2 separate regions of the Homo sapiens genome follow, and region 2 is linked to region 1. Evidence: fine-mapped expression QTL. A gene starts in region 1. The other region holds a variant in brackets. All regions are shown on one strand. Distances are from middle to middle.

Region 1 (5,378 bases):
CCTCACGATGACACCAAGGACAATACCTCAGTCTGGAGCCAGTCTATCTCGAAGACCTCTCAGGCACTTACTCATCACTCTGTTTAACAAAAGAAAACAGTCCTCGGGCTTGAAATTGTTCACCACCAACCTCATCCAGCCAGAATTTACTAACACAGATTTGCCTTCATTGAGTACATATTTTTATAGTTACTTTTTTTTTTTTTTTTGAGACAAAGTCTCGCTCTTGTCCTCCAGGCTGGAGTGCAATGGTGCGATCTCGGCTCACTGCAACCTCCGCCTCCGGGGTTCAAGTGATTCTCCTGCCTCAGCCTCCCGAGTAGCTGGGATTACAGGCACCTGCCACCATGCCCGGCTAGTTTTTTCTGTTTTCAGTAGAGACGGGGTTTCACCATGTTGGCCAGGCAGGTCTTGAACTCCTGACCTCTGGTGATCCGCCAGCCTCGGCCTCCCAAAGTGCTGAGATTACAGGCGTGAGCCACTGCGCCCGGCTTAGTTACTTTCTATTTATGACAATGGATACTGATTTTTTCATGGTTGTGATATAAAATTTTCTATTTAAATATATTTTTCAGTGTACAAAGTAAGTTGATTTAAAGAAAAATATTGAGCAAATAATAAGTAGTAGATTTTATCATTTTCTTATATATTTTATCCAGTAAGTGGATGTGTAAAAGTTGTTTCAGTGATACTAACATTTGGGAACCATGGGACAGGATCAACCCTAAGCCCCTTTGCCATAAGATTCTCTGACATGGGGGTGCCCCCAAACACTAGACAGCTGTTAATCAAATGCCCCACAAAAATTACAGCTATGATGGGTTATCATAAAGGAAAGATACATGACATGCTAGAGTAAGAGTCAGGGAAATCAGGGAAGGCTTTCCTGAAGAGGTGACATTTGGGTGAAGATTTACCGGGTAAATAAGAATTCATTAGGTGAAGGTATTCCTCCAAGCAGGAACAGCATGTGCAAAGGCCCTGGGGCAGCAGGGAGCGTGAACCATAAGAGGCTCGCAAGCAAGGCTGGAGTGGCTGGAGCACAGAAGTGAGGCCAGGGAGGTAGGCTGGCAACAACCTTTATTCTTTAAAAAACAGGCAAGGGAAGGAAATCTGCACATTGTTCCCAATCTGGAAAGAGTTGCTCACCCTTTGACAGGGGGCAGACCAGTGCCTGACCCTTGATCTGAGGATCTGGGGTTCAATGAGGGGTTTCTAATGACTAGGTTAGGTGTGAAAGCAGGAGAGGCTTGGCAAACACCAGGTGCACGCTGTGGCCCTGGAGTGACCATGACCGCCGAGTGCAGGCTCAGAATTCAGACTGTCCTAACTTGCACTTTCTGGGTGGGGTGACCTTGGGCAGCTACTTAAGTTCCCAGAGCCTGAGGTCCCCATCTGTTGGAGATAGCCGCAGGTCTAATCTTAGAGTTGGTATGAGTTACTGACTCCTGGATGTAAATCACCTAGCACAGGGCCTTGCCTGTAGGGAGAGGTGAATAACCACTGGCTTATGAGAGTATTTTCAAACAGCTCCAAGAGCCATGTGTGTGTACACCTGTCCCCGCAGTGCATGGATGTAGGTGCCCGGTTTTGCAATATGTCTGTGGTGTGTATGCCAATGTATGCCCATAGTTTAGCAGTATGGGGGAGCAGGTGCAGAAGGCATGGGTGTATGAGAGGGTGTGAACATGTGTTCAGCTGTGTGAGTCAGTGGGAGCATTCAGGTGTGCTCTGTGCGTGCATGTGTATGTGTGTGTGCATGTGTACGTGTGTGTGCATGTGTACGTGTGTGTGAGTGCCTGCGTGTGTGTGTGTGTGTGTGTGAGAGAGAGAGAGAGAGAGTATGAACACCTCTATATGGAATTCTTCTGCTTGTGGAGATGCATTTGCTGTGAGTGAAAACCCACACAAATTCAACATGGTTGGTCACAGTCACAGGGTTAAAGCCTTGGCCTGTCTTCACAGCTTTTTTCAAAATCCTTACAGCCCCTGTGAATCTGCCTGGGGCTCTTGTATCTGTCTGGAGCTGGGCTGAAATCCTCCAAAAACAGACTTTTCTTTCATTCCCTGTTGCCAGATACTGGCACAAACGCATCCCTGCCACCACCACCACCACACACACACACACACACACACACACACACACATTCTCCCAGAATGTCTCAACTTTTTTCAAGGTTCCAGCTCCAAAAGTCCCTTCCTCTTCCCTCTCCCCAGCCAATTCCCATGGAAGCACCCTGGGTTTCAATGTGTATATCTGACTTTCCATAGCTGAGTCTAAAACAGCAAAAGCATCCCAAGTTTTGGTAAGCAGTTCTCTCCTTTTCACCCTGGACCCTTAACCCTCCTCGCCCTGCACTGCCTGGCTGGCCTGGGAGGGGACTTTAACCCCCACCACCACTCTTCCCCATCCAAACTCCCTGCCGGGACAATGTGCATATCACAGTCAGTTCCAAAACAAACATGCAAAACCACCCCGTTTCAGCCCTCAGCCTCAGGGCTGAGATTCAGGCTCAGGTCTAGGGGTTGGGGAATATTAAAGTTTACAAGTACAATCTTACTCCATCCATACACACACATGGAGAAGCCAGGAGAGGACGCGGCCAGAGATGGGCTCCTGCCCTTGAACCCCTGCTGGGGTGGAAGCAGGTAAGCACAACCCTGCCAAGGCACTGAGGGTCGTCTCAGTGTAAAAGGCCAGGGCCACCCGGGGCTGTTCTGCAGGGAATGGGGAGGGCTGTGCCCACTGAAAGGGGGCAGAGCGAGGTGGTCCAGGCCTTGGCGCGTTACCATGGTGACGGGCTGCCAGCGGCGGGCGGCGCGGCTCCTCTCCTGGGCGCGGGGTCTGTGGGTCCGCGGGTCCGTCTGTCTGGGGCAGCCCTCGGTCCCGCCTAGCCCTGGAGCCAGGGGATAGGGCAGGCCCGGGGCACCGACCCCGGCGTCATCTCGGAGGAGCGGCCGGGGAGGACAGGGAGAGAGACTGAGAGAGAGACAGAGAGGGACTGAGGCTGGAGACGGCGAGAGACATAAGGGAGCCGCGGGCGGCGCGGGTCGGGCCACCAGACGGGGGGCGGCAGCAGAGGCGGGGCGGGGCGGGGCGCGGCGGGACAGCGGCCCCTTTGTGCCTGAGCCCTTTGTGCCCAGCCCGCGCGCCCCGCCCCCACCGCCCCCCCTTCCCTCCGTCCACCCCCTCAGCAGCCAGCTGGAACCCGAGGAACCCGAGTCCGCCCCGCCAAGTTTTCCTCCCCGCTCCTCGCTCTTCCCACGGCGCACCCGGCCCGGACAGCCCCATTGTACAGACCCGCAGAGCGAGGCCTCGAGCCGCAGCAGCCGGGTTAAGCGCCCGCGGACCTCGCTGGCAGGCCCAAGTTCGAGTCTCCTCCTCCTACACTTCCCAGGGAGTCACAGACTCTCTTAAGCTTCGATTTCTTCATCTGTAAAATGGGGTGGGAGGAGGATGATGATGATGATGATGATGATGATGATGATGATGATAGTGCCTGCTGCTTAGATTTGGTGATGAGGAGTAAGCATCTGTCCCAGCGCCCTTGAATTCTCCCACATTATGCCCCATCATGACGGCCTAATTCAAGGCTTTGAGGTGATGATGGCTGTGTGCGAGTTCTGTTCTTGACTCTCAGATAATGACCTTGGCCAAGTCGGTATTTCCTACTGAGCCTCAGCTTTGGAGTGAGACTAAGAAACTAGATGACCGCTAGGGTCTATATGTGTGTGTCCCCTCCCAAATTCGTATGTCCAGACCTAATCCTCAGTATGATGGCATTAGGAGGTGGGGCCTTTGGAAAGTGATTGGGTCATGAGAGGACAGAGCCCTCACGAATGGGATTAGTGCCTCTCTCTATATATATATATACACCTACATATATATACCTATATATATACATATATACACCTATATATATACATATATACACCTATATATATACATATATAGGCACTAATATGTATAGGCATATATACACACACATATATATACACACACATATATATACACACATATATACATATATATACACACACACGCACACACATATATATTTGAGATGGAGTCTCACTCTGTTGCCCACCCAAGCTGGAGTGCAGTGGCATGATCTCAGCTCACTGCAACCTCTACCTCCCAGGTTCAAGCAATTTTCCTGCCTCAGCCTCCCGAGCAGCTGGGATTTTAGGCACCCGCCACCACACCTGGCCAATTTTTGTATTTTTAGTAGAGACTGCATTTCGCCATGTTGGCCAGGCTGGTCTCGAACTCCTGACCTCAGGTGATCTGCCCACCTCACCCTCCTAAAGTGCTGGGATTACAGGCGTGAGCCACCATGCCCAGCTTAGTGCCCAAGAGGCCCCAGAGAGCTAGCTGCCTTGCCCCTTCCACCATGGAAGGACACAGCGAGAAGGGGCTGTCTATGAACCAGAAAGGCCCAGAAACATAAGGTCCAGAAAGAAGGCTCTTACCAAACACCCAACTTGCTTGTGCCTTGATCTAGGGCTTCCCAGCCTCCAGAACTGTGAGAAGAGAATTTCTGTTGTGTATAAGCCCCTCAGTCTAAGGTATGTTGTTATAGCAGCCCAGACTAAAACAGTGACCAAAGTTATTCCTGGTTAGATGGCTCAGGGTTTTGTCCATTTATTTATCAAACACTGTGCACTGAGTCAGCCTGTCTCCCCCACTAGACTATACATTACTTGAGAGTCCCGGCCCTCAAGTAATGTACAGTCTAGTGGGGGAGACAGGCAAGGAGCAGATAAACAGGAAAAATAAAAAAATAATAACTGTGGTAACTGCTAAGAAGGAAACAAACAAATGTTGACATTGGGAACAGTAGAGGGATCAACTTATAGCTGGTGGTCTAGGAAGCCTGGGTCTGAAAGCCTAGATCTGAAAGGGGAGGAATTAGAAGAGTGGAGATGGGGAGACGCAGAGGAACCAAGTTCTAAGCAGAGAGAACCGCATATGCAAAGGCTCTGAGGCAATATTAAGCTTAAAGGAGCTGGGGAGTAAGTGAAGAACTGAAAAAGACGAGTGTAGTTGTAAGGGTTAGAGTTCAGACCCAAGCCTTATTCACAGCCCATCTCCCACCCCACATAGGTTAATCAGTCTTTTAGCAGAGAAAACCTGAATTAGGAGCCATCCTATCCCAACTTTTGATAAGTTCCTTCACATCCCCGACCTTCACTTGCTTATCACTAATTTGGGACTAATAATCCCCTGCAATATTTCCACAGCCCAGCAATCAAGTAAACTCTCTCTACAGGAGATGGTCTGGATGGTTTTAGTATCATGACTCCAGATGTGAATTTAGGAGAGAACAGACTTGATGTTCAGTACAGAATTCCACTGAGAGTTGTGGGGTCACAGC
Region 2 (5,378 bases), 24 kb before region 1:
AACTGCAAGCTTCTGGACCTGGCATTGAAGTGTCTCAGGCTCTGCACACTCTTCCATCCTCATTTCATACACTAGGTGTTAGGGGCGAAGCTGTGTCCCCTGCCCCTCCAAATTTATATGTGGAAGTCTTAACTCCCAGTACATCAGCATGTGACTGTATTTGGAGATAGGGTGTTTAAAGAGGTAATTCAGTTAAAATGAGGTTACTGTGGGCCCTAATAGAATATGGCCAGTGTCCTTACAAGAAGAAATTTGGACACAGAGGGAAGACCCCATGAAGATACAGGGAGAAGATGGGCATTTGCAAGCCAAGGAGAGAGGCCACAGAAGGAAACAACCCTGCCAACACCTTGATCTTGGACTTCCAGCCTCCAGACCTATGAGAAAATGAATCTCTGTTGCTTAAGCCACCCACGTTATGGCAGTCCTGGGACACTAATATACTAAGTCTCCCCTTGCCACCAATGACAGATGATACCACCCAGCTTTGTTCACCCTATTCCTTCTGCCAGGTATGCCCTTCTGTCCTATCTCTATCTGGTGAAATCCCCCTCATCGCTCAAAGACTAGCCAAGATGCCACCTCTTCCTGGAAGACCTCCTTACTGCCTTCCCTCTTTAGAAGCTCTTCCCCAGTCCCAGGTTCCCAAAGCAAATGTAGGCCTCTGTGAGATCCTGCAAGACTGAGAGCCCTTACGGGTGTGCACTGGGTCAAACTCATTGTTGCATCCCTGTGCTCAGCACAAGGCTGGATAATCAATGTCTGTGATTGATTCATGAAGGAATGGAGGGTTAGAGCAACACCTCTCAAACTTTGATGGGCCTGGGGATCTTGTTAGAATGCAGATGCCAGTTCAGCAGGCCTGAGATTCTGCCTCTCCCCCTAGCTCCAAGGTCACGCTGATGTAGGTAGTCCCCAGACCACACTTTGAGCAGCAAAGGGTTCACACACTCAGGACATTCCACACTGGGACACAGTAGTCATACGATTAGTTCACATGTCTGGTTCCCCACACTGCCTGGAACAGGGCCCTGCACACACCCAGTGCCAGCTGAGTTGATTACAGCAAGGGGCAGTTGTCCACCTGATTTGTCTTCAGCTGGGCCAAGGAGACCCTTTTGCCCCAAATGTTATCCTCACCTACCAGCTGGCGCCAGAAATACCATCATTAGCATCTCAGAACCGTGGCTTGAAGCTGTGCTGTTCACAGATATTGTGAGCCTCAGGTGAAAATGAGGATGGCAAAATGAGGGTGGTGGGTAAGTCGGGGTTGCCCAAAGTTGCTGAAAAATGTGTTGCATCTGCCAGCAGCATGAAGAGTCACTCCAAGTTTGGGGAGGGAGGAATGGTAAGTAATTGAATTTGCAAGCAATTAAAAGCATTTTTTCATATCAAAACGAGTGTGAATGTATTCTATTTATGGATATTTAAAATGTATAGAAATTTTAAAGGCAAAAAGGATTTCAAAGATCTATATGGAGCAACTGAGAGCTCAGGGTGAGGTCTCAATCTCAGGGGCTCTGTTCATTCTCTTCTGCATTAGGGATTTTCCAGTGGAAAGACAGGGAAGCCCTCTCCTAAGGCTTCGTGCCTGTGGCCCCAAAGATGTCCATGCCCTAATCCCCAGAACCTTGAATATGTTACCTTACATGGCAAAAGGGACACTGCAGATGTGATGAAGGGCAGGACCTTGAGGTGGGGAGATTATCCTGGATCATCCACTCTAATCATAGGAATCCTTAAAAGCAGAGAACTTTTCCTGGCTTTGGTAGGAGCAAGGTGCCAAGATGGATGGGGGGTGAGGGAGATGCAACATTGCTGGCTTTGAGGATGGAGGAAGGGGCCACAAGCCAAGGAAAGTAGTGGTCTCTAGAAGCTGGAAAAGGCAAGGAAATGGAGTCTCCCTTAGAGCCTCCAGGAAAGAATGCAGCTCTGCAGACAGCTGGATGTAGCCTAGCGAGATCCATGTTGAGCTTCTAACATACAGAGCGATCAGATAATACATTTGTGTTGTTTTACGTCACTAATTTGTAATAACTTGTTATGGCCACAATGGGAAACACAGTGCCTATTAAACAAAACCCCATCCCCAGCATGGGAGCAGACATTCACACCTGCATGTTGATCAGTTTCTTTCCTGAGAACAGATCTTTATGAAAACTTTACGGGGAGACCTGCTTCACAGGGCTGGCTTGGAGCAGATCTAGATCTTGAAGCACAGGCTCTGGGGACTGTTTGCCCTATAAGGAAACTCCAACAGAGGCCGGTGTGGACGCAGAGACACCAGCGAGGAGACCACTGCAGCAGGCAAGAGACCACGCTGGTTTGGACTTGGGTGGGGTGAAGTCAACAGATTCTGAATACAATTTAATGGGAGAGTTGACAGTTAACAAATTGAATGTGGGATGTAAGAGAAAGAGCAATCAAGGATGATGTGGTCATCTTTTACTGCCATGAGGAAAGACTGGAAGGTTGGGAAGTGTGGGGTGAGGGGATGTGAAGTCAGGAGTCCATATTTGGGCATGCTAAGTTAGAGATGTCTGTGAGACCTCCACGCAGAGACATCAAGTAGTAAACAGCTGGATGGATAAGTCTGGAGTTCATGGCCAGGGCCCAGGCTGGAAAAATCAGTGTCGGGGTTGTCAGCCTGGAGAGAGCATTTACAGAAAATATTCCACCTCCAGGATGAGATCGCCTAGGAAGTGAGTGTGGATGGAGAGGAGAAAGGGACCAAGGACTGGGCTTTGGGGGCCCTCCAGGATTTACAGGTTGTGGAGATGAGGAGACAGGAAAGGAGGCTGCAAAATTGTGGCCAGTGAGGTGAGAGGAGGACTGGGTGACTGAAGATCTAATGGCAAGTGAAGAAAGCCTTTCAACAGGAGGAAGTGGCCATCCATGCCAAATGCTGCGGAAGGGCCTAGGGTGATGAGGACTGAGAAT[C/T]GACCCCTGGATCTAGAAACATGGAACGCAATGACGACCTTGACAAGACGTGTCTCAGTGGCACAGTGGGGAAGGGATTCTGATTAGAGTGAGTGGAAGAGAGAAGGTGTGGAAACAGGGAACACAGACAACTGCTTTGTGGAGTTTTAATGTAAAAGGGTGAGGGTGGGAACACGGGGGCCTAGAATAGCTCATTTCAAGCTGGGCAATATTGCAGCGTGTTCTCATCCTGATGGGAATGGCCCAGAGCCAAAGAGGAAAGATGATCCTGTAGGAAGGAGAAGAGAATCTTGCTGGAGGGATGTCTTTGAGGAGGTAAAGAGGAACAGAGCACGGGTTCAGGGTCAGCCTCAGGCACATGGACAATTCATCCATACTAGAATGCTGAGCCTGTGGGTACAGATGCCAGCAGGTAGGTGAATGACCTTCCTTCTGGTCTGACTGAGTAAGCAGAAGCAATTCATAGACTTCCTTCCAATTGCTTCTGCTTACTCACTCAGACCAGAAGGAAGGTCATCAGCTGAGATTTAAGTTGGGGAAGGTGGTGTTGAAGGTCAAAGGAGAGAGAAGGTGTGAAGTCATCACACAGGACTGTGGGGGAGTCATTCAGGACTCTGGAGGTGAAGTAGGATCCACTAGCACCATTGGGACCCCCAGAGGTCAGTGGTCAGGAATTCAACACAATTAGCCTGCACAATTGTGTGGATTTTTCCAGCTTCGTTCAGCTTGAGGGTGCAGGTGGAGAGTTGGATCTCACGGAGGTTGGGATTTATCTGGGTAAGTGTGAAGGTGGAAGAGGAAAGCAAGCGAGTGAGTGTTTGAAAGGAAGTGATTACAATGTGAGCCTGGAATCTAAGCTAGGAAGAAGGGATGTGAGGATGTGACAGAAGGTGGGGGAGACATAATGATGGGGAAGGGATGTGGTGGAGAGTGAGGAAGATATGATGATGGGGAAGGGATGTGGTGGAGGGTGGGGAGACATGCTGGAAAAGGGGAGTGAAAAGGTGGTTGAACCAATAGGTTCAAGGTTTTGGGAGGCCTGAAGATGATGAAACTTGGGGCAGTGGGTGACCTGGAAAGAGAAGCAGTGGTAATAAAGGAGAGGGAGCCTTAACATGAAAACCCGGCGGGGAGAAGTTGGTTACGGGGGATGCGATGGGGGGAGTCATGTGGGGAATGAGGACAAGATCACTAGAGAAGAGCAGGACAAAAAACGGACAGAAGGAGCACGCATGTGGACGTTGCTCATTCACACAGCAAATGCTTTTTGCACACATGCTACACATCAGGCATGTGCGAGCTAACAGTGCATGTTGCAACCCCCAAGAATTACAACAAAAGTAACTGAGGGAAGAGTGACAGTGAGCCAGGTCCTATCTGTCTATTCTCCTCCTCTCAAGGAGGCCCAGAGAGGGCAGTGACTTCTCCAAGGACACACAGGGAGCTAATGATAGAGTTAGAACTAAAACAAAGGTCACCTTCCTCCCATAGCAGAGCCTTCCATGGACAAAATCTGAGCCCTTGGCCCATGATGGCCCTAAGAGGATCATGAGATCCTTTGTGTACAATTAATATGGAACAAACAGCAGGAGCTTCAGCAAAGATGACCAGGAAAATGACAGATAAGGTCTCCTGGGAGCTGCAAAAAGACAGGGCAGTGCTCAAGGTCCTGAAGAGATATGGAAGTCTGTGAAGTAAAATAGTATTTCAGGACAATCAGTCTCCAGAAAGCACTGTGGTTCTCTTGTCTCTGGACCTTTGCACATGCTGTTCCCTTTGTCTGGAACGCCGTTCCCAACTCTTCACCTGGATAATTCCTACTCATACCATAGGACTGGGCTTTACGTTACTTCCTCCGGGAAGTCATCCTTGACCTCTACTACCCTAAGCCTGAACCAGGGGACTCATCTGTGCTCCCACAGCCCCCTGTCCTTCCCAACTGTCACACTTTGTTTACACTGGGTTTCAATAATCTGTTGTGATAACCTGTTGGCTTTTCCCCACCACTAGAATATAGGTTTCCTGATAGCAGAGAACACATCAGACTTGTTCTCTTATGAATCGCCAGTGCTAAGCCCAGGAACCAGTAAATGTCTGTTACAACAATGGGGAAATATTAAATACGAGTGATAAGACCTTCTGTATTGGATGCTGCTAGTACCCCAAACCCAGATCCCCTCAGCAGGCAGAGAACCCATCCCCAGAGTCTGAAAGTATCAGTTGTCAGTGGCTCACAGATGCCCCCTCTCTGAAGAAGCACTCTGGGCTGAACTGGATCACTGGCTCCCCCTGCCCCACCCCATTCCAGGATCAGCCCGAAGTTCCTGCAGTTCATTAATGACGGACAGACTGGGGATCAGCCCACAGTTAATGACTGACAGACAAGGCTTATAAAAGGCCAGTCCCCTACACCTTCAGCTGGAGCCAGCTCTGTGGGG

Direction of the effects. Positions count from the first base shown, and alleles are read on the strand shown. Sizes are in standard deviations (SD) of each study's normalised expression.
For the expression in testis of the gene that starts at base 3,028 in region 1, T is the low allele of the variant in region 2 and C is the other (moderate effect, 0.42 SD a copy in GTEx).

Evidence for each region. PIP is the estimated chance that this variant, and not a neighbour inherited with it, causes the effect.
Region 2: its variant is the best candidate, but not a certain one, in a credible set for the expression of KIAA1755 in testis (GTEx, PIP 0.70).

The regions. Positions count from the first base shown.
Region 1 is chr20:38,257,708-38,263,085 of GRCh38, forward strand. It overlaps KIAA1755, which reads right to left and starts at 3,028. Exons shown (of 14, transcript NM_001029864.2): 1 at 2,791-3,028. The coding sequence starts at 2,793. LOC149684 (a long non-coding RNA gene) reads left to right here and starts at 2,468. Exons shown (of 2, transcript NR_104170.1): 1 at 2,468-2,649. LOC124904900 (a long non-coding RNA gene) reads left to right here. Exons shown (of 3, transcript XR_007067581.1): 3 at 1-154. RefSeq lists an enhancer at 2,786-3,285.
Region 2 is chr20:38,233,734-38,239,111 of GRCh38, forward strand. All of the region lies in intron 4 of KIAA1755, which reads right to left. Among named protein-coding and RNA genes, the nearest start is that of KIAA1755, 24 kb to the right of the region's middle. The variant C/T (reference allele first, on the strand shown) is at 2,941.